Linked DNA regions of Homo sapiens. The protein of the gene in region 2 interacts with the protein of the main gene of each other region in a pairwise test. Each region holds a gene or a part of one and is shown on either strand. Other genes may lie near its edges. The genes, in order: SURF1 and COA3.

Region 1 (10,909 bases), on a different chromosome or scaffold from region 2:
TAGCTTGCCATCATCTAATGTGTGGGCAACTAGACAGTTCTCCAGAGGCAGGGCCCCTGTTTCACGAATCCCTCCTTTCCCTTCAGAGGTCAACATACAGAAATTATCCAGTCATAAATGAGCTGGCTGAGAAGATTAAGTCAATGTCACAATTAGGGACTTAAACTATGCAAGGAATTGAATCTCCTGGGTATCTTGGGTTCCCCAGGGTCCTACCAAGGTTGGGGATTGTGAAGGAAATAGTGATGTAAATTAGTATACCCTGACTGCCTCTGCCAGGACAGCCAGCTCCCACATGTCCTACTCACCCCAGGTCGGTGCAGTGGAAGGGAGTGACCACATAGGCCCCACTCTGAGTTGAGGAGGAGATGAGGCCGCCCTCCCGGGCCTCCCGGACAGGGTCCACCATGGTCCGGGGCATCATATACAGCTCCTTGGAATGGTCAAAGCACCCCCTGACCTTCACTGGCCTATACTCCAGATTTTTCAGTTCCATTGGGCTGCATGGAGATAAGAACAGTGGCCGAGCAAGGTTTGGCTGGAAAACGAATCCCCTGAGGGTGGCAGACTACACAGCCCACCAGGGCCAGACAAGTGAAGGAGAAAGGCAAAGGGCGTGCTCTTCAAAGGGGAACTTTGATGCCATGTGGGAATGTGGATCTGCACTGCCAGAGTCCAACTTTACAAGAGAGGCTAAAAATCTGGACTCCTCAATGAATATTTTATGTGAAATTTTAAAAAATATGTGGGCCAAAACCCCATCTGCAAGCCAAATCTGGCATACTGTTTGCTACCCTGAATGGAAAATGTGGCTGAATATACCTATCTCTGTAGGGCATATTCTAGGGAGAGAGCAGACAAATCATTCAGGGCACTTTTTCAAACGACCACCCTCACGGTGAGACCTACATTATCTGTCCTCAGCCACAGGGCCTTGGGCCCTGTGGAGGATAAGTTTACTATACCTGAAAAAAGGGTGACACCCAGGACTCAAAATAAGACTTTCCTCCATATGTCAGGAGGCGGTCTCAGGTAGCTTCACAAGGGCAGTCAGGTGTCAACAGCAAGCCCAACAGATGACTGATAATGAGAGCTCCCACCTGAGGTCAAGGCAGTGACTAAAAGTCCCACCAAAAGGGGCAAGCTGGCCAGCAGAAGCCAGGGCTCTGCTGTTGAACTCAAGTAAAACAGGCCCTAGGGGGGCAGCCATGCACTCACTCGGCTGGCAGAGGGACAGGCTCAGCCAGAACTCTGGACTCCAACTCTGCAATCAGGTTCAGCTTCCACTTCCGACGCTGGACCTACAGTGACAGAGCATAAGGCCAAGCAGATGGCAGCAAGGTCAAGGGCCCAGAGTTACGCACACCAGATGCCGGTCTTTACCTGCCATGTCCCCAAGCCAAAGGCAGTCACAGGGATGAGGAGCAGGACCCACTGAAGAAAGGAGTCATCTTCCGCTTTTGTGGCAGATGCTTCTGCTGCAGAACTGCCACATCTGCTTGGCCTCCAGGCCACCCCTGGAGAGTTTCACAACACTGACATGGAGCCAGAAGCCCTCGAACACAGACCTGGAGCAGCCCGTTCCAAGACAGACTCCAGTACTGCCAATCAAAACCTGCTGCCTAGAGCCAACTAGCAGCACCTGTATCCAGCCCAGCTCCTAACCCGGTGCCCAGAACAAGGCACACACAGTACGTCTGCCAAGTGAGTAAGTGGGATCTAGGGCTCAGTGCCGGTTTGACCACCAACCACGACCCTGAGTAACTCATGCCTTTTTACTCAAGAATCTAGATGTATTCCACTGCACTAAGATGCACCATTCATCCATTCAAAATGCATTTAATAAGCAGCTACAGTTGGCCGGGCACGGTGGCTCACGCCTGTAATCCCAGCACTTTGGGAGGCCAAGGCGGGCGGATCACGAGATCAGGAGTTCGAGACCAGCCTGACCAACATGCAGAAACCCCATCTCTACAAAAAAATGCAAAAATTAGCTGAGCACGATGGTGCTTCTGTAATCCCAGCTACTCGGGAGGCTGAGGCAGGAGAATCGCTTGAACCTGGGAGGAGGTGGTTGCTGTAAGCCGAGATTGCGCCACTGCACTCCAGCCTGGGCAACAAGAGCGAAACTGTCTCAAAAAATAAAAAATAAGCAGCTACAGTTACTAAGTAGCTTAGTCAGGCACTAGTGGTTGTTGTGTTATGTAGAAAAATATATCAATTCAGTAATGGCTCACAGAGCTCTCTTAACAGCTTTCCATTTTTACAACTCATCGTAAATGTAAAGAGGGAAGAATGTACACAGAAAGTGCCTTTAAGCTCTCAGAGGATGAGTTCCATCCGCTGAAAAGCACCAGGGGCCTTGCGGATACTATTTTTTTTTTTTTTTTTATAAAAAGGCAGGCCTGGGGCAGGCTTGCACAGCACTCTACACACGGCAAAACAGCCCTGTGCTGCACACTGAGAGGAACACGTAAGCCGCGGTGGTTAGATACGCTTTACTTTCAGAGCCCTGGGCTTTCAGCCTGGGCTGGCCACCCATTAGCTGGATGGGACGTTCGGAAGTAACTCTCGAGCCTTCTCTGTAACAGGGGAACGACCAAGGAGCTACCTCTCGCGTTGTGAGGACAAAGCGCTCGCTACATGCCCGGCACACGACCACAATTCCACTGAAAGCATTTTAATACGGAACTTGTCACTCCCAGGGAGCCTCCGCTCAGCCGGCAGTTGGTTCATTTCAATCCCCACGACAACCCTTCAAAGTGCAGGGCAGACAGCAGGTGGCTCTGCCCAGGCGCCTGGATCACAGCCCGGCCTGCAGCCCTCACCTGGGCGCGGGGAGACCCTGAGGACGCTCCTCCAGGCGGCGCTGGCCGGGGCCTGCGGACACGGACGGGCGGGCTGAGCTCCGGGACCCCTCCCCGCGCCCCGCACCCCGCACCCCGCACCCGGCGCTCACCCGTCCCAGCCCCGCCGCCCGCAGCCCCAGCTGCAACGCAGCCACCGCCGCCATCGCACCCGGCCCCGCGGGCGCTTCCGGGACGCAGGAAGCATCTGCATCCGGGGCGCCGCTGAGTCCCGCCCAGAGCCCCGCCCCCGGCTCCAGGTTCTGCGAGCGGCTTCCGCCGGGCTGCTCCGCGGGCGCGTCGGCCATGAGCGAGTTGCCGGGCGACGTGCGGGCGTTTCTGCGGGAGCACCCGAGCCTGCGGCTCCAGACGGACGCCCGCAAGGTTCGCAGCGCGGGAGGGGAACGGAGTGGCGGAGAAGGGCGCAGTTGGGATGAGGGGCTGAGGGGAGGGCAGGGGAGAGGAGAGGGCAGGGGAGAGGGGAGAGGGGAGAGCAGGAGAGAGGGGAGGGCAGGGGAGAGGGCGCGGCGGGATCAGGGGAGGAGAGGGAAGGGGGCGCGGCAGGAGGGGGCACCAGGGAGCGGAGCCCTGGCCCTCCTGACGTCCTGCCCGCCCACGCGTCCGCAGGTGAGGTGCATCCTGACAGGTCACGAGCTGCCCTGCCGCCTGCCGGAGCTCCAGGTCTACACCCGCGGCAAAAAGTACCAGCGGCTGGTCCGCGCCTCCCCGGCCTTCGACTATGCAGAGTTCGAGCCGCACATCGTGCCCAGCACCAAGAACCCGTAGGTGGTCCGCGGCGGCGCGGGGAGGCCCAGGGCAATTAGGACAGCCCCTCCGCTGGACTCCGCCAGTGCTGCAGCCCCTACTCTTTCAGAGTTGGGAGCCCTGGGACCCAGGTGGGCGCCCGGGTGCTGGAATCACCTGCGGTCCCAGCGGCGAGGCCTCTTGGTGAGCTCGTTTGCTCACCTGAGGTTTGTCCTGTGGGGTGTGGCTGCTTCCCAGATGAGTAGAGGCTTGTGATTTGTCACCTGAGGTTGTGAACAGCGTTGGGTTCTTCCCTTAACCCCAGAAGGGGTCTTTGATTTAGCTGGGAGCTAGGCTTTGTAATAATCGTCAAAACAGAGATAGGATGTTTCCATTCATTGAGCCCTTGCTCCAGGTGGAGCCATCCTCTTGCATGAACTCATCCTGGAGCAGTCAGTGAGGCTGCCATGCGTGCTTTTCCGGTAAACATTAAGAGGCTGCAGTCGGCCTGGGTCAGACGGTTCCCCACCCAGCTTCAGAGTGGAATTGCTCCGGGAGCCTTTAAAAGCCCGATGTCCAAGCCGCATGGTAGACTGTCCAGGGATGAGTCCAAGACACAGCCACCAGTCTGAATCCTTGCTGTGAACTGTCCCTACAAATTTGGTCTCTCTGCTCTGTAGGCACCAGTTGTTCTGCAAACTCACCCTGCGGCACATCAACAAGTGCCCAGAACACGTGCTGAGGCACACCCAGGGCCGGCGGTACCAGCGAGCTCTGTGTAAATGTAAGTCCCAGTGGACCCCCATCAGTGCATCGCCATCTGAGTGCATGCCCGCCTTGCCCCAGATGGAGCGTGCTTGAAGGCAGGTCGTCCTTCAGCGATCCGTGTTGATGCATCAGGCCTGTTTTTTGGCACAGTGAAGAGAGGGATGATGGCCCCTGACCCCACAGCTTTTAGTGCAGGCAGGCACAGAGCCAGAAGCAGGCTCGGGAGTGAGTGAGTGTGCGTGGCAATGCGAGGTGTGAAAGAAACTGGGCGAGGGATGTGGGGTGGGCTTGCGGAGACAGGAGGGCTGGGGAGACTCGCTGAGGGATTCGCTCGAGGCTGAGGCTGGAGGGATGTGGTGGCAGTGGGGTCGGGGGAACAGCACCCCAGGGAGAAGCCAGGGTCCATGGAAGTCTGAGGCAAAAATGTGTTGGCTGAGGTAGGCTCCAAAGGACTGGCTGGGCTAGTGTGCACAGCCCGGATGACCCAGAGACCAGGCCAGGAGCACTGCAGTGGGTGTGTGGAGAGGGTTGGGTGGGGGCTGCATGGACAGTGTGCATGGTTGAGAAGGGAGGACTCCTTGACTGCGGTCATCCAGGAAAAGACGGTGGGTTTTGGGGGGAGAATTCAGAGTCCCTTTGAAGGTTTTAAGCTTGAGCTGTATTAGGAAAGGTGTGTATTAGGGAAGTATCGGGCTTTTGAAACAGGGACACCCGTGCTGGATGAAGGAGATGGTTGCACCGTGGATCTGGGTGAGCACCCGGCGAGAGTTTAGAGAAGGGAGAGAGGCCTGGTCCTGAGCCCCAGGAAGAGGCTGGAAGTCCTCCCGTGGTACTGAAGGGAAGATGAGGACAGAAAAATGATAGATTTGATAACACAGAGGCCCCTGGCAACCTTGGTGAGGCACCTGAAGCTTGGCAGGGACACCTGGCTAGAGTGGAGCGTAGGCTGCAGCCCATGAGGGCAGTGTCCGGCCTTAGGCAGGTGCTGGGTCACCAGAAAGCCTTTCTGGAGTCCAGCTAAGGAGGGAAATGGACAGAGGCTGGAGCGGACAGATTCAGGTTGGTTTGCGGATGGGAAGATGCGTCTACGGGCTTCTGATGAGTGCGGAGAGGCAGTCCAGCCCTCCCGAAGCATGAGTGTGGATTGAGAAGGCAGGACCAGGGTTTCTCAAGTAGAAGGCGGGCACCTTGCAGAGGCCTTGCAGGCACAAGGGCTGCCAGCCTGAGGCTTGGACTTTTTCCAGCCAGTGTGTTAGCTGCTCAGGGGTGGGCAGGAAGGCTCTAAGTGCAGGGGGCCACGGGGTTCCCATGAAGAATGGTTATGATGGTGGACTGTGGAGCTGAGATGGGACTGGGGCGCCGAGGTCACTGCAAGGCAGTGGTCCAGGGAAGTCCAAACGTGGCTGTAAGGGGGCTCTGCCTTCACGTTCTGGTGGTGACAAGGCTGCTGCATGGCCATGGGGGTGGGTGGCAGAGACAAGGAGGGAAACAGCCCTGGAGATGGGCCGCCACATCAATGGCCAGGGCCCAGCAGGGCTCATGCAGCCCATGAGGGATGATGATGGTAGCTGCGCTGGGCTGGAGGGCAAGCCCCAGCAGACCCTCCAATATACAAGGGGACAACGGTGGTGACTCCAGTGAGGTCTTTCCATGGAAGCCTTGTCCCAACTCCCTTCTCACCCACTAAGGGGCAGCAAAGGCCAGGCAGCCAACCTCCACTGAGCCCCGCCCTCCGGGACGGGGTCTCCCATGTGCTGAGGGAGGACTTCAGGCTGCTGGGGAGAGGGTGGCATCACTGCCAGCCCGAGTTGCCTTTGAGAGGCCATGCCAAGCTCACTGGGGCACAGTTGGCCTTGGGCCTGGTCAGTGCCCTCCTAGCCGTGGCTTCCTAGGCCTGGCTAGATCGGGGATGAGTGGTAAAGGCCCCGTAGACCTCTACCATCTTCTTGCCTCCTGGCTGCAGCCCTGGCCCACCACCCTCCCTGCACACCTGGTAGGAACAGAGCTGAGGCACCCAGCAGCTGCTCTGGTTTTTGTCCAGGGCGGTGGGGCTGTGGGGCCCTGGCCGAGTGCAGTCCTCATAAGTTAGCTGTGGCCCAGAGGACCGTGGGGGGTGTGGAGGTACCCAGCACGTGCTGGCTTATCTCCCAGATGAAGAATGTCAGAAGCAAGGGGTGGAGTACGTGCCTGCCTGCCTGGTGCACCGGAGGAGGAGGAGGGAGGACCAGATGGACGGTGACGGGCCTCGCCCGCGGGAAGCCTTCTGGGAGCCCACATCCAGTGATGAGGGGGGAGCTGCAAGTGATGACAGCATGACAGACCTGTACCCACGTAAGCAGAACAGGCCCTGCTTCTCCCTGACCCTCTACTGTCAGCAGGGAGCAGACTGTGGTGCTGCCTCCCCTGCAAAGGTGGCAGCGAACTCAGCCTAAAATAACTGTCAGCCAATCCCTGTGTTCCTCCCAGCTGAGCTATTCACCAGAAAGGACCTTGGAAGCACGGAGGATGGGGATGGCACTGATGACTTTTTGACAGACAAAGAGGATGAGAAGGCAAAGCCCCCAAGAGAGAAGGCCACTGATGAGGGCAGGAGAGAGACGACCGTGTACCGAGGGCTGGTCCAGAAGCGCGGGAAGGTGAGCTGTCACCTCCTCTGTTAGTGTGGCAGTGGCTTCCCCTAGTGATGGTTTTCCATTTGTTTAAAAAAAGAAAACTGAACCTTTTTCACAAGTGAAATCCCAAGCCAACAACACACAAGAACCATAGAAGCCGAGGCCGCTGGCTGGCGGAAGGCCGTGAGTGCCTACCATTGCTTCCCAGCCAGCCCCTTGTGGAAGCCAGGCTCTGTGGACCACGGTCAAGACCACTGGTTTGTGAGGACACCCTCCTACCTCAGACTATGAGCTGTGGCGTGTTTGTCCTTACCCCTGGGCACAGGGACCTGATTACTAGCCACCACCTTTGCCTTTGCCATCAGGGCAGGAGTGGAGACTTCCCCGCCTTTGGTAGATAAGCAGGACCAAGGCCAAAAGAGGACAAGGTCCTAATGAGTGTGTGGCATTGCACTGTACTCCTCTGAGGCCCTGCTGAGCGGGGTCTAATCCTGCAGCTGTTAAGGAAACGGGGGTGGAGAAAGCCTCTGTGGGTATTTGACCGACACCTCTGAGGCTGTGTGGGTGGGGAGAGCCCTGCACTCCAGGGCCCCTTCTCCATGGGATCAGAAAGGCTCAGTAATCAGAATTTTGTTTATCCCACAGAAGCAGTTGGGCTCGTTGAAAAAGAAGTTCAAGAGTCATCACCGCAAACCCAAGAGCTTCAGCTCCTGTAAACAGCCAGGTTAATAAAAGCACATGCCGTGAAGTTTCGAGAAAGCCTTCAGATATTTCCCCCGCTCCTGATCAAACCGTGTGTCCTCTGAATGATCGGCTGTCCCCAGTGTCTTCTCTACCCACTTATCCTTGTCTCATGACATCTGCTGCCCTCTAAGGCAGGGCTGAGGGAGTCTGTCCCCCACACCCAGGAAGCAGCAGGGACTCTGAGGGACTAATTCTCTCTGGACATGGCTTCTGAGTGGTCTTCAGAGAAGCCTAGAGAAGTAACCTCGCTCACTGGCATCCTGAGGGGAGCCCCATTCAGGCTGGGCAACGCTATAGGATCACACTGCATACAACAAACGCCATTATTTATTTTGATGTGTTTCCAAAAATCAAAACGTTTTCAAACACAACTAAGATATAAAATACAGCATAAAATGAGATTTAGATCTGTTTCCCACATAAAGCAAAAAAATCTTAGAAATTGTTTTGCCAGAATCAATTGGTAGATCCCACTTATCCTCCCCTCCCTGCAAAGGCATCTTCCCGAATCAGGCCCTAGCCCACCCAGGGCCAGGAGAAACAGGAACACCCACTAGGACGGAGGCGCTGCTGGTGCAGAACTGGTGCTGACTGCTCACGTGGCCTCCTTTGGTCCACCCTACTTTCCACCAATCAGCCAACCAACCTTGACCACAGAGAAACCGTGACTTGGCCAAGGTCATTTGATGGGGGCTGTCATACGGCACTAACAGGGAGCGAGGTGTGGACCAAGAGACAGCCCTGGTGAGGTTGAAACACTGAGACAAGCCAGTCTTCATGCAGTGAGCACTTGAATGATCACAGGAGAAGAGAACCCATGTCCTGAAGCCATTGCTCGATCTTACCAATATTCGGGGGTAAGGAAGTAGGCTACCAGGGGAATATTTGCAAACGCGTTGGGACTAGTTCGGCTGTGTTAAAAAGGTAGGTGACTTCCAAAAGCACTTATGAGCAGAAACCTGCCTCACCCCTGCCCTGCAGAGCCAATGGATGAGAGGCCAAGAGGGAGGCAGGCTCGGGGCTGGGCCGCAGCAGCCCTGGAGACAGGCTGAGCCAGCCTGTCCCCAGATAGGTCTAGGGGCCAGAGAGGTGTTCGACTACCCTTGTGGCATTTACTATGGTGCAGACGACAGGGAGCAACAAGCAGTTAAGCTCCCCCAAAAAGAGAAACACAGTATAAGGCAGTGTTAGAAAACTTTAAATACAGGATTAAGATCAAATCGGTAAGGCATCACAAATTGTAAAAAGGAATTTTGGCTGCATTCGGCATAGCAAACGGACAATCTGAGTGAGCGACAGCCTCAGGAAAGTGGTGTGTCGGGGCTGTCCACAGGGCGAGTGCAGCTGGGAAAGGGCGGTGCTGCTCAGCCAGGGCGGCCTGCGCTTTCGAGACCTTGCTCAGAAAAGGCCCCATGTGAGGTAACTGGGTTGAGTCCGTGGGTCTCCAGTGCTGGGAGCTCCTGCCACACCCCCTGCCCACAGCGGCTGCGGCTCTGCAAGCTGGTCTGAGCAGCTGGCCAGGCTGGCTTGCAGGGTGCTGCTGCTGGGGCTACCCCTGTGTGGTCTCACTAGCCCTTCCCACTGCCAGCTTGGAGGCCAGCAGCACCCAGACCAGCAGCTTCCCCAAGGACTTCTTGCCCCTCCACCTTGCCTCAAGCTACTAAAACTCCCAGGGTGTTACCCAATAAAACACTTGGCACCAATCCAAGCTGATTTTCTGACCGATGACTTTTATCATAAACAGCAGCTTCTACCACCCCTTTAATACTGCATCATTCTTTGGGTGTCCCTAAATGTTTTCACTATTCCTATAAAATACAATGCGGGGCAGAAACAACATCAAAGCCACTGGTGTGATTTTAAACCAGGGAGATTAACTGTTTTGAGGTTTGGCTGAACCACCCAAAATAATTTAGTAGTTTCCGCTAAAAATGTAAACTTACAAATAAGAGGGAGACTGCTTTGAATGATAATACCAATGCGTCTGCTCACAGTACAGCTTGAAGGCCCCCTCCTGTACCCCCACAAAAAAACTCAAAAATAGGACTGAGATGCCACAGCCAAGCGGGCTGTTCACTCCAAAGCCTCGGCGTGGGGGAGGCTTCCAGCTGCCAGGCTGGCCTGCACTGAAGGGTCAGACGCCAGACTGTGGCTCCAGAGCAGACTGAGCCATCGATTCTCAGGTGTCTCTGCAAATAAAGTTCTCAAAACATCTGTGCCTTTACCAAGGGAGGGGAAGGGAAGAGGATACATAAAAGCTGGCAGTTTTGTTGAATCCACCCCGAACCAGTCCTTGACGGCCACGGGTCTTAGCCAGGCAGGTAGGGATCTGTGACTGTTACCACTCCTTCTTCTTCTCATCCATGGAGACACCCCCAGGGCCCAGGGCCACCACCAGGAGCAAGCCCCCAATCACCGACATGGTCTGGAAGAAGTCGTATTTCAGGAAGTCATGCATGGGCTTGTAGACTGGAATGGTCCAGAAGGCGTTGAAATATACGTTGATGGCAAAGAGCCACACAACAAGAGTCAAAGCAGCCAGCTTGGTTTTAAAACCAATGGCCACTAAAATCATCAGAGCTGTGCCCACGATGTTCTGGACAATCTGCATAGGTTGAAACGTAAGAAATTCAAAATAAATGTGAGGAAAAGAGATGCTTTATAAACAAAAGTTCCAGCTGCTGCACGTCATGAAGTCTCTATCCATCAGGCTGATGTAGCTACTGCTGAGACGGCTGCTGGTGCAAGTAGGGAGATAAAAGCCAAAGGGAGGCAGGAGGCAATAAAGCACCAGCTTTGAAATGTGGAAGGTTTGGGGAAGACTGAAGTTCCCAACTAGTAACAGGCTGTGATTTACCAAGATGAATCTCTAATCCATAACTAAATTCCCAAGTGCTTCTTGGCCCACCCAGCCATCCAGGCCAGAAACATCCTCTCTCCTCTCTCCATGGCGCCAGGAGCTCTTCCTGGACACTACCCGGCCAGGGCTCTCAGTCAGCTCCGGAGGTGTGCTCTGGAAGCTCCTGGAGGCCTGCCCCTGACACCTGACACACAGGAATTACTTGAGAAAGATACGAACAGTGAGGAAAGAAAGAAGAGTAAGGGGAGCCCGGGTGGAGAGCCTTGGCCAACCAAGGGCCAAGCACACTCCACCAAGGTCAGAGGTTCTGGCCTTCATTTGCTGGAAAGAAGGCT
Region 2 (10,397 bases):
CACCCAGCTTCCATCTTTTCCCTGAGACCCCTTTCTGTCGACTGTTTTTCTCCAGGCCCTGGGGGTCTGCCCCGGGGGAATAGACCCCCTCTCCCCACCTCCCCTTTCCTCACTTAGTGCTCTCCTTCCCCCATCCTGCTCCCAGGCATCATGCGAAGGAACTCTCTGAGTGGCAGCAGCACCGGCTCCCAGGAGCAGCGGGCAAGCAAGGGGGTGACATTCGCCGGGGATGTTGGCAGGATGGTGAGGGCGGGCCCAAGGGAGGGAGAGCCCAGGGAATGGTACCTGGCTGCAGCTTCGCCTTCCTCCCACCTTGGAGGTTTCTTCATCACTTTTTCTTTTCCCTCCAGTGAATTCAGAACAGAAGCCATGTATCTCCCCCACACCAGGGCCCACCATGGAGCTTGTGTTCTCAGAATCTGATGCTTTCTGATCAACAAAACTGAGCAAGGAAGATCCCAACACTGAAGGGGTAGAAGGCCAGGGGGGCATGGAGAGTGCAGCTCCATTATAGTGAAGAGCCAAACATATGTGAACTGTTTGCTGTGTGGAGGTGTTAGTTCTGCTGCCTACCATCTTCATCTCTAGCACCTCCCCTGCCAAGAGTCAACCACTAAGCAATCCCACCCAAGCCTGGATGCTTCTAGAGGGGCCCACTCCCAGCTGGGAGAGTGTAGGGGATATGCTCACACCACATTAGCAGCAACCAATAAAAATGCTGGAAACAAGAACGCCGTGAATCCATATGCCATGCCTTAGGAATTGGGGGAGCAAAGACTTGTGGGGTGAGGCAGGGGAGGATTTAAAAGGGACTTTCTTTTCACAATGGGAGGCAGGGGTGGAAGCTGCCCAGCCCTCTGGCTTCCTGCCATCAGTTAATGAGGAAACTGCAAGGTCAGTGATCCACTTGACTAAGTTAGGATCCCCTCCAGACCCCACCCTAGACCTGTATAGGCAGGTACCAGGGAAAGTTAAAAGAATGAAGACTGCTTGTCTTTCACCCTTCATCCACCTCTCTCTCCCTCCCTCTCTCTGGGGATGGGAAAAGCAGTAGAGTTACAGTATGTTCTTGTGGGTAGAGGACAGAAGAGTGACCTTCCTTCCCCTAAGACGTGGGTTCAGTCTCAAACTGCCCAGTGATCTCTCCCTTAAATCAGGTGGAAAGATCTCATGGAAAAAGTAATTCTAGTTAAACATTTACAGCTCCCTGGGGCAATGCCACCACTGCAGCTACTGCTTGTGAAGCTTTCCAGCATGAAGTGCCATATGCTGCCTCTCAGCCTCCATACTCACTTGACTCCAGGAGAATGACTCAGTTTATTATTCTCAATTTGACCCTATGTATCCCACTGTAGGCTCAAACACTGCACAGAGCTGCCACGTCTAACCTCGTAACAACTGCGTCCCTGGAAGGTGAAGGGGGTAAACCACAAAGTCAGAAACTTTGGGAAAAGCCACGGTCGCATGCACACCTCTCAAACAAGGAAACAAACTACAAGAAAGGGCTCAGTCATTGTACACAGCAAGTGTGCAGTGGGCAAAGTTCTGTTCTTTTGACATTGGCCAAATGCGTAAGTCCCTGGTTTCTTGGGCTCAATCACGGTCCAAGGTTAGTAAGAAGGCCAACAATGTTGTGAGCAGGATTCAATTTCTACAGGGTCATGGGGCATCATCCACCATGTGAAGGGGCTCCAGCAGGTTGGACATGATCAATACCCATCCAGATTAGGACCCTGACGCCCTTGCCAGAGCTCGGGCTCGGGCAGCTTTGGCCTCGTCTTCTAGCTCATCTAGGAAACGCTCCTGGGAAATCGAGTAGAAGGTGTAACCATCTGGGGAGGTAGGTTCAGGAAACCACACAGAATATGCACATTCCCCTTTCCTAGATTTGCTCTACCACTCTTGTTACTCTCCCAAATCAGTGATTCCGGCTTCCCGCCGCTGCTGTTTCTAAACCCTGAACCCCAATTCCGTTATTATTAATAAATCAAATTAAAAGAGTACCTTAGGAATAACAAAGGAAAGTACTACCCATTTTACCCCAAAATTAAACGGGTGGTTCAGCCCTCTTGCACACTCTGTTCCCCTGCCCCTATATGCGGTCCCCTTGAGTCTACAACACGGACGGATACAAATAGCCAACACCAGGGCCCCGATGCCTAGGCCGGTCACGATGTTCCGGGTTCGCCGCCGTGGTAGGACCTTCTGCCACTGGGCAAGCTCCGCCTGCCGCATGGAATGCAGTTGCTCGGGTGTCAGCTTCTCCCGAGTCGGGTCGATACGCTGAGCGAACGGGGCCTCTCCACGCTTAGAATCCAGAGGGTCACCAGCTCCCGAAGACGCCATGTTGCCACTCCTCCCTTCGCGGTGCCGCCGCGCGGGCCTCGCTGGGAACAGTAGCCCTTGGCCGCTGCAGTGGACTCTGGGAGTTGTAGTCCGCGTGCCCTTTGCGGGGCAGAGCCGCGGTTCCCGGGCACAGGGGATGGACGCGGGAGGTGAGAAGCGGACGTGCTTTCTGATTGGCTGAGGAGTCCGTGGCCGTTGGGGCGGGAAAAAGCTGTGGAGGGTTCGAGGCTGTGGTGGTAATTGGGTTTTCCTCAGACTTGAGGCGACGACACACTCATTGGAAGGGGACGAGGAATCCAGGGTGTGGCAGAAGACTGGAGAGGAGCTAAGGGGGTCGGTATGTGGATCCAGTGAACCCGTCCAGGTGCCCCAAGAGGCTCGTGAATATGGACGGACCCATGAGGCCACGATCGGCCTCCCTCGTTGACTTTCAGTTTGGAGTTGTCGCCACAGAGACGATTGAAGACGCCCTGCTTCACTTGGCCCAGCAGAATGAGCAAGCAGTGAGGGAGGCTTCGGGGCGGCTGGGCCGCTTCAGGGAGCCCCAGATCGTGGGTGCGGCTGCAGGGCCGGGGTGCTGGGTTCTTGGGAGACTGGGGCTTGTGTCTTTCAGGCACCGACCTTGAGATTCCGTTGATTTTATTCATTCAGAGAATGTTTGCTAACACCTCTCTGTGGGGTGCTGGGGATATAGTGATGGATAAGTCACAACAGTGCCCTCCCCTTGATTTCTTCGACATGTATGGAATACTTGAGTGGCACCGCTTGGCTAGAAAGATGAAATAGAGGGCCAGGCATGGTGGCTTACACCTGTAATCCCAGCACTTTGGGAGGCTGAGGTGGGAGGTTCACCTGAGGTCAGGAGTTCGAGACCAGCCTGACCAACATGGTGAAATCCTGTCTCTACTAAAAGTACAAAAATTAGCCAGGACTGGTGGCGCGCACCTCTAATCCCAGCTACTCGGGAGGTTGAGACAGGAGAACTGTTTGAACCCAGGAGGCGGAAGTTGCAGTGAGCCGAAATCGTGCCATTGCACTTCAGCCTAGACGACAAGAATGAAACTCCGTCTCAAAAAAAAAAAAAAAAAAAAAAAAAAAAAAAGGCTGGGCGCGGTGGCTCACGCCTGTAATCCCAGCATTTTGGGAGGCTGAGGCGGGCAGATCACGAGGTCAGGAGATCGAGACCATCCTGGCTAACATGGTGAAACCCCGTCTCTACTAAAAATACAAAAAAAAGCCGGGTGTGGTGGCGGGCGCCTGTAGTCCCAGCTACTCCGGAGGCTGAGGGAGGAGAATGGCATGAACCCGGGAGGCGGAGCTTGCAGTGAGCTGAGATGGCGCCACTACACTCCAGCCTGAGTGACGGGTGACAGAGCGAGACTCTGTCTAAAAAAAAAAAAAAAAAAAAAGAGAAAAGAAAGATGAAATAGAGATAGAGGTCTTGCCTTCAAACCATGTGCAATTTGGGGGAGATATTAGAACAAATATGCAATGACTAGGTACTATGGTTAGATAAGAGACGTCAGAGAGAAATAAAACAAGCGTTTATGGGGGTTGAGAGGAGCGATGGGGTAATAGGAAGAATTCAGGGGATGGCCCAGGCATCGGGACATTTCAGGCAGACCTTGAAGGAAGGAGGACATTGGGTTGGTGAAGGGGGAGGAAGGAGACAGTGTTTCTACCAAAAAGAGGTAGCATGAGTAAAGCTATGGAAATGGGGTGCTTAGGGTGCATGTGGGTACAGTGTAGTCCATGTTGGCCAGTGCATGTGGAAGAATAGTTGAAATTAATACTGGAAAGGTAGTTTGGAGACATTCCATGTGGAAGTTTGAATGCCAAGGGGAAGAGTTTATCCTTGGTTTGGTAGGAAACCAAGAAGACATTGAAGGTTTTTAAATAAGGGAGTGAAGGTTTTAAAATAAGGGATACGATGGTAACCCTGCCTTAGTAAACATTATTTTGGCAGTGATGTAAAGGAGGTAAAGGATGGATTAAACCAGAGGGAGATGGGATGTAGGCAGACAGGTAGAGTCAATGTCAGTAGGCTAGGTGATAGGGCAGAGGGAATAACAAGGGAGGGTGGATTAAAAACATTCTAGAGGCAAAGTCTAGGGTTCTGCTGTGGATAAATTTAGGAAGTGAAGGAGGAAAACGTGACTATGCTAAACGGTTGAGCCTGGAAGACTGGAAGTATAGTGGTCATTAAAAGAAACACACAGACACGGCCGGGCACGGTGGCTCACGCCTGTATTCCCAACACTTTGAGAGGCTGAGGCGGGTGGATCACGAGGTCAGGGGTTCGAGACCAGCCTGGCCAACATAGTGAAACCCTGTCTCTATTAAAAACACAAAAATTAGCTGGGCATGGTGGCAGGCACCTGTAGTCCCAGCTACTCGGGAGGCCGAGGCAGGGGAATGGCTTGAACCTGGGAGGCGGAGGTTGCAGTGAGCCAAGATTGTGCCACTGCGCTCCAGCCTAGGCCACAGAGCAAGACTCTGTCTCCCAAAAAAAAAAAAAACAACAACAAAAAAAAACAACACAAAAAACACAGACACACTACATAAATAAAGCAGGAGGAAAAGTGACTTTTGTTTGGGAAAGATAATAATGGCTTTGGAGCCTGGCCAACATGGTGAAACCCCATCTCTACTAAAAATACAAAAATTAGCCAGGCATGGTGGCAGGTACCTGTAATCCCAGCTACTTGGGAGGCTGAGGCAGGAGAATGGCTGGAACCCGGGAGGCAGAGGTTGCAGTGAGCCAAGATCACGCCATTGCATTCCAGCCTGGGTAACAGAGTGAGACCTTGTCTCAAAAAAAAAAAAAAAATATATATATATATATATATATATATATATATATATAATATATGTGTGTGTGTGTGTGTGTGTGTGTGTGTGTATAATAGCTTTAGTTTTGGATCTGCTGAGTTTAAGGTGTTTGCAGAACATCTAAAAGAAGTGTTCTTGTAGACTATTCAAAGAGTAGGTTAGAAGAGAGGTCAGAAATGGAGATCAAGGTTTTCAAGTTATCTTCACAATGATATTGTTGAAACTGTGGCAGAGGATAAGCTCCTAGAAGGAGAAAAGAAAAGCAGGTCAAGGACAGTTCCTTGGGAAAACACTTTGTGTTCAGGGAATTGGAGTAAGAAGACTTGTGAAGGAAATAAAAGGAGGAGATAGGAACAGAACCAAGGGACTTTTGGCAGCCAAGAGGAGACTTTGAAAAGGATAATGGTCAGAAGTTTCAGATGCTTTAGGGATATCAACAGAACTAAAGATTGCAAAAAGCCATGATATTTAACAATTTGGACATATTTACTGTCCTCTGAGAATCATTTCAGCAAGTTAGGAAAGGTAGAAGCCAACAGATAGAAAATTAGGAAGTGAACGATGAAGTGGAAGCAGTGGGTGTGTAAGCCAGGCTTTCAAGTAATTCAACAGCGAGGCTGAGATGGGAGGATTGCTTGAGCCCAGGAGTTTGAGACCAGCCTGGGCAACATAGGACAATCCCGTCTATTTATTATTTATTTATTTATTTATTTAAAAAAAAATTCAACAGTGATGGGAAAGAGAGAGGTTAAAAGGGGAGGGTCTTTTAGTTAATAGCAGATCTGAGTATGCTTGTTATCGAGGAGGTGGGGCCAATAGCAAGGGAAAGGTGTAACCCTCATCCATTCCACCTAATCCAAGCTCAGTTTTTTTGGCAAATTAAAATGGAAAACAGAAACAAATGCTCAGATAATTCAGAGCAAAACCAAACCAAAACTTAACAACTGCACACATACACAAAGAACAAAACTAAGAAATAAAGCCTAAAGTCCAGCAAATAAAATGACTAATAAGAGACACAATTATATGTTCTAGGGTATTATGCTGAATTGCTTAAACTAATTCTGTCCTGCATTGGACATTGCTAGCCAAACTGTAGCCTCTGTAACGATGAGGTTTTGTACATCTATCTATGTGTAATGTGTGTTGAGTAGATTGTTACTTGTGTAAGCTTGACTAAATTTTCTAAGAAAGTTAAGTTTTCTCTGAAGACATATGATTATTTGACTAAATGTGTAATTCTCTACGGATCAATGCTAAAAGGTCTTCAGTCTGTAGGAGCTTTCTTTGTTGAGAACTGACATTTACCCTTGTTTCCACCCTCTAATGATATTGCAAGATAAATATAATTCTATCTGGAGCTGTTCTTTCAAAGAGAAACAGAGGCAGGCTAAAATCTTGCCAAGGTATCTCACCCTTCCCACCTTCCCAATGACTCCCTCCCCCTAAATTGGGCTATGTTCTCCAATTTAGGGGATGTTTCTTCAAAACAAGCCACTTCACAGTAACACACTTGCTCCTGGGGAGAGGCTCAGCCACCACAGATTTACCCAGCAAACTGGTGGTGGAGAGATGGTGTCCAGCTGTAAGGTGACTTGTGTTTGTAAAGCAATGGGAGTTCTCCAGAGGGTGGTTACTAAACAAACAGTGTCATAAAGAATATCAAAGCTCCAGGAGGGATCTTTCTGTTCCTGCCAACATTCCACAGAAAACAGAATATAGGAGTTAGGGTTTTTATCCATCCAAGAATCTTCCTTGAAGCTGGGGGTTCCCAGCATGGTGTAGAGGTCACATAGACCAGCTGGTATGTTTGTGTGTAACTGGCCAAGCCTTTTATCAGCTGAAACCCACAGGAAGGCTCAAGGGTCACTGAGGGGGCTTGGTAAGCCCTTGTCTTTGGCACTCAGTCAGCCTCCTTTACATGTCTCTGATCTGCCTATTGGCAGCAAAAGAAACTAAGCTCAGCTTTGGTTGTTTTAGTCTCATCTTTCTCACCTCCTGACCCTCTTCCCTTGGCCCCATCACGGCTTTTACACAATGCCAAGAGTTCACAGAGTGGTTTTGGTTGCATCTTGTGAATTAGGCTCTTTTTTCCTGTTTTGGCAGAGTTTGTTTTTCTCCTGTCTGAACAATGGTGTCTGGAGAAATCTGTGAGCTACCAGGCTGTAGAAATCCTAGAAAGGTAAAGCCCTGGCATAATGCCTTTTGAACGGCACCTCTCAGAGTGGCTAATGTACCTACATCTTTAAGAAAGTATGAGTAGTTGCCCCTTACCCTGAGACCTGGTTTTACACCCTCTCTAACTTGCAAATATAAATTTCTTTGTTGTTATTGTTGTTTTGAGACAGGGTCTTGCTCTGTCACCCAGGCTGGAGTGCCTGGTGGGATCTTGGCTCACTGCAGCCTTGACCTCCTGGGCTCAAGTGATCCTCCCACCTCAGCTTCCTGAGTAGCTGGGACTACAAGCATGTGCCTCCACACTTCGCACTTGGCTATTTTTTTTTTTTTAGAGATGGGCTTTTGCCATGTTGCCCAGGGTGGTCTTGAACTCCTGGGCTCAAGTCATCTGCCTGCCTTGGCCTCCCAAAGTGCTGGGATTACAGGTGTGAGCCACCATGCTCAGCCTCAAATGTAAATTTCTTAACCAGCAAGTTAAACTCCCTTTAGTTTGTGTGAGTGAGGATTGTTTACTCTCCCTCCCTTCCCTACAGGTTTATGGTAAAACAGGCAGAGAACATCTGCAGGCAAGCCACAATCCAGCCAAGAGATAATAAGAGAGAGTCTCAGAATTGGAGGGCTCTGAAACAGCAGCTTGTCAACAAGTTTACTCTCCGTCTTGTGTCATGTGTTCAGCTGGCCAGCAAACTTTCCTTCCGAAACAAAGTAAGGAGCTGGGGTTGCTCATGGGCACCTGAGTGTTAGGAAGAAACCAGCTTTTATACAAAGGGGGGCTGTGATGAGCTTCAAGTCAGTGACAAGAAGAAAATAAATAAATTACAAAGTAAAAACAACGGCCGGGCGCGGTGGCTCATGCCTGTAATCCCAGCACTTTGGGAGGCCGAGGCAGGTGGATCACCTGAGATCAGGAGTTCAAGACCAGCCTTGCCAACATGGTAAAACCCTGTCTCTACTAAAAATACAAAAATTAGCCAGGTGTGGTGGCGCACACCTGTAATTCCAGCTCCTCAGGAGGCTGAGGCAGGAGAATTGCTTGAACCTGGGAGGCGGAGGTTGCAGTGAGCTGAGGTCGTGCCATTGTACTCCAGCCTGGGCGACAGAGCGACTCTGTCTCAAAAAAACTAACAACAAAAAAACAAGGTAGCTGTAAGAAACCTACTCCTAGGTTAGGTGATACAACTCATGGAAATTCCAGAGTGTAATTATGCTTCCTAAGCATACCTTCTACACACACACACGCACACACATGATCTTTCTCCCCCTCTCACTCACACAGAGGCAGTTATTAAATAGCCTGAAGTTCTGTTCCCAAAGTATAATTGGGACAGATGCCATCATTCATACTGGTCACCTTTCCTCCCCCCTTGGACTCAAGGGCAGTTTACATAAGGTGCCTGAATTGCCAGCATACCTATCAACAGTAGAAGCAAACTATTACATTTATAAGGGAAAAAAATGTTTCCACATCACTACCCAATGCCTATACAGTAAAATATCATTCATTCAACAAATACTTTCTGAGTTTATTCTATGGCCAGATGCTGCACCAGGTGCCATGGCTACAACAGTACAAATATTGTCTGTGCTCACAAGGAACCTATTATGTAATGGGAAAAGACACATACAAATAGTGTGGAAAAAAAAGCTCTGATTAATGTAAATACAGAGGGCTATAAATGTACCTCATCAGCCTTGGAGAGTCAAGGAAGTGTATTTAGAGAAAATGACTTCTTGAAATGGGGTGGGTGGGAGATGGGAGGATCCTAAGAGAAGAGGGAGAGGAATTAGGGAGGAAAGGAAGGGAGATCCAGGTATAGAAAACAGCCTGTGTAGTGGCTTGGAGAGGGACAGCATGGTGGGTTTGGGAACTGTAAGCAATTTGGAATGACAAGCAGAGTGTGAGGGGGAATTACCAAGAGACAAGACTGAAGATGAAGGAATAGGCTGGATTATGAAGGGCTTTGTGCACTCTGTCAAGACGTATGAACTTTATCCTAACATTCTTCTTTCCCTCTCTTTTCTTTGCTCAGATAATCAGCAACATTACAGTCTTGAATTTCCTCCAGGCTCTAGGCTATCTACACACTAAAGAAGAACTGCTGGAATCAGAGCTTGATGTTTTGAAGTCCTTGAACTTCCGAATTAATCTGCCCACTCCCCTGGCATATGTGGAGACGCTCCTAGAGGTTTTAGGTATCTTACTGTGTTAGGGAATATGGGTTGGAGACTTCCATAGAAGGCAATACAAAATGTGCATGGGGGGGCATGGCTCATGCCTGTAATCCCAGCACTTTGGGAGGCTGAGGTAGGTGGATCACTTGAGGCCAGGAGTTCAAGACCAGCCTGGGCAACATAGTGAGACCCCATCTCTACTAAAAATACAAAAATTAGCTGGGTGTGGTGGTGGGCACCTGTAATCCCAGCTACTTGGAAGGCTGAGGCACAAGAATTGCTTGAACCTGGAAGGTGTAGGTTGCAGTGAGCCGAGATCATGCCACTGCACTCCAGCCTGAGCAACAGAGCGGACTCCTTCTCAAAAAAAAAAAAAAATGTGCACAGGGGTTTGGGAACAGTGGGCAGAACCTGCCAATGAGGAACAGTAGGAAGCTTGATGGTGTCTCTGGATGACTGAAACAGGTGTTCCCTCCGGCACTTGTCAGGGAAAGCTCAGAGGTCTTAGCAACTGGCTTCTGTTTGGACTCACTAGGCACTCTTATTGCAGGATCAAAGAGGTGACTTTATAGAGAGGCATAAGATAAGAGAGGGACAACTACATGCTAATTGTATGTATACTACAGATGGAGGTTTCTCTACCTCTACCTTTGTCCTTTAAAACTGATCTCCAGCTAAACAGGTTTCTTGTAGTAGAACATAGCAACCAGGAAGCACATTAGCACCTCAACAGCTTTATGTCACAACTGTGGTTATGATCAGAGAAGACATGATCATAAATTCTCCCTATCATTCCCATACTCCATCTAGGATACAATGGCTGTTTGGTTCCAGCCATGAGGCTGCATGCAACCTGCCTGACACTGCTC

What was found.
Region 1: the proteins of COA3 (region 2) and SURF1 interact in binary tests that used the Homo sapiens proteins (3 or more experiments, as listed by UniProt).

Annotation. Positions count from the first base shown.
Region 1 is NC_000009.12:133,353,441-133,364,349, forward strand, and holds the start of SURF1 (surfeit locus protein 1), read right to left. Parts: upstream 3,048-10,909; 5' UTR 3,014-3,047; coding exon 2,960-3,013; intron 2,881-2,959; coding exon 2,829-2,880; intron 1,518-2,828; coding exon 1,384-1,517; intron 1,302-1,383; coding exon 1,219-1,301; intron 501-1,218; coding exon 309-500; intron 1-308. Other genes in the region: SURF2 (surfeit locus protein 2), read left to right, coding at 3,153-3,230, 3,474-3,628, 4,271-4,374, 6,510-6,689, 6,825-6,994, 7,616-7,699; SURF4 (surfeit locus protein 4), read right to left, coding at 10,053-10,319. UniProt on the Homo sapiens protein: Component of the MITRAC (mitochondrial translation regulation assembly intermediate of cytochrome c oxidase complex) complex, that regulates cytochrome c oxidase assembly.
Region 2 is NC_000017.11:42,796,336-42,806,732, forward strand, and holds COA3 (cytochrome c oxidase assembly factor 3 homolog, mitochondrial), read right to left. Parts: upstream 2,370-10,397; 5' UTR 2,347-2,369; coding exon 2,133-2,346; intron 1,833-2,132; coding exon 1,726-1,832; 3' UTR 1,290-1,725; downstream 1-1,289. Other genes in the region: serine/threonine-protein kinase WNK4, read left to right, coding at 146-423; CNTD1 (cyclin N-terminal domain-containing protein 1), read left to right, coding at 2,733-2,901, 7,285-7,360, 7,890-8,061, 9,387-9,549, 10,339-10,397. UniProt on the Homo sapiens protein: Core component of the MITRAC (mitochondrial translation regulation assembly intermediate of cytochrome c oxidase complex) complex, that regulates cytochrome c oxidase assembly.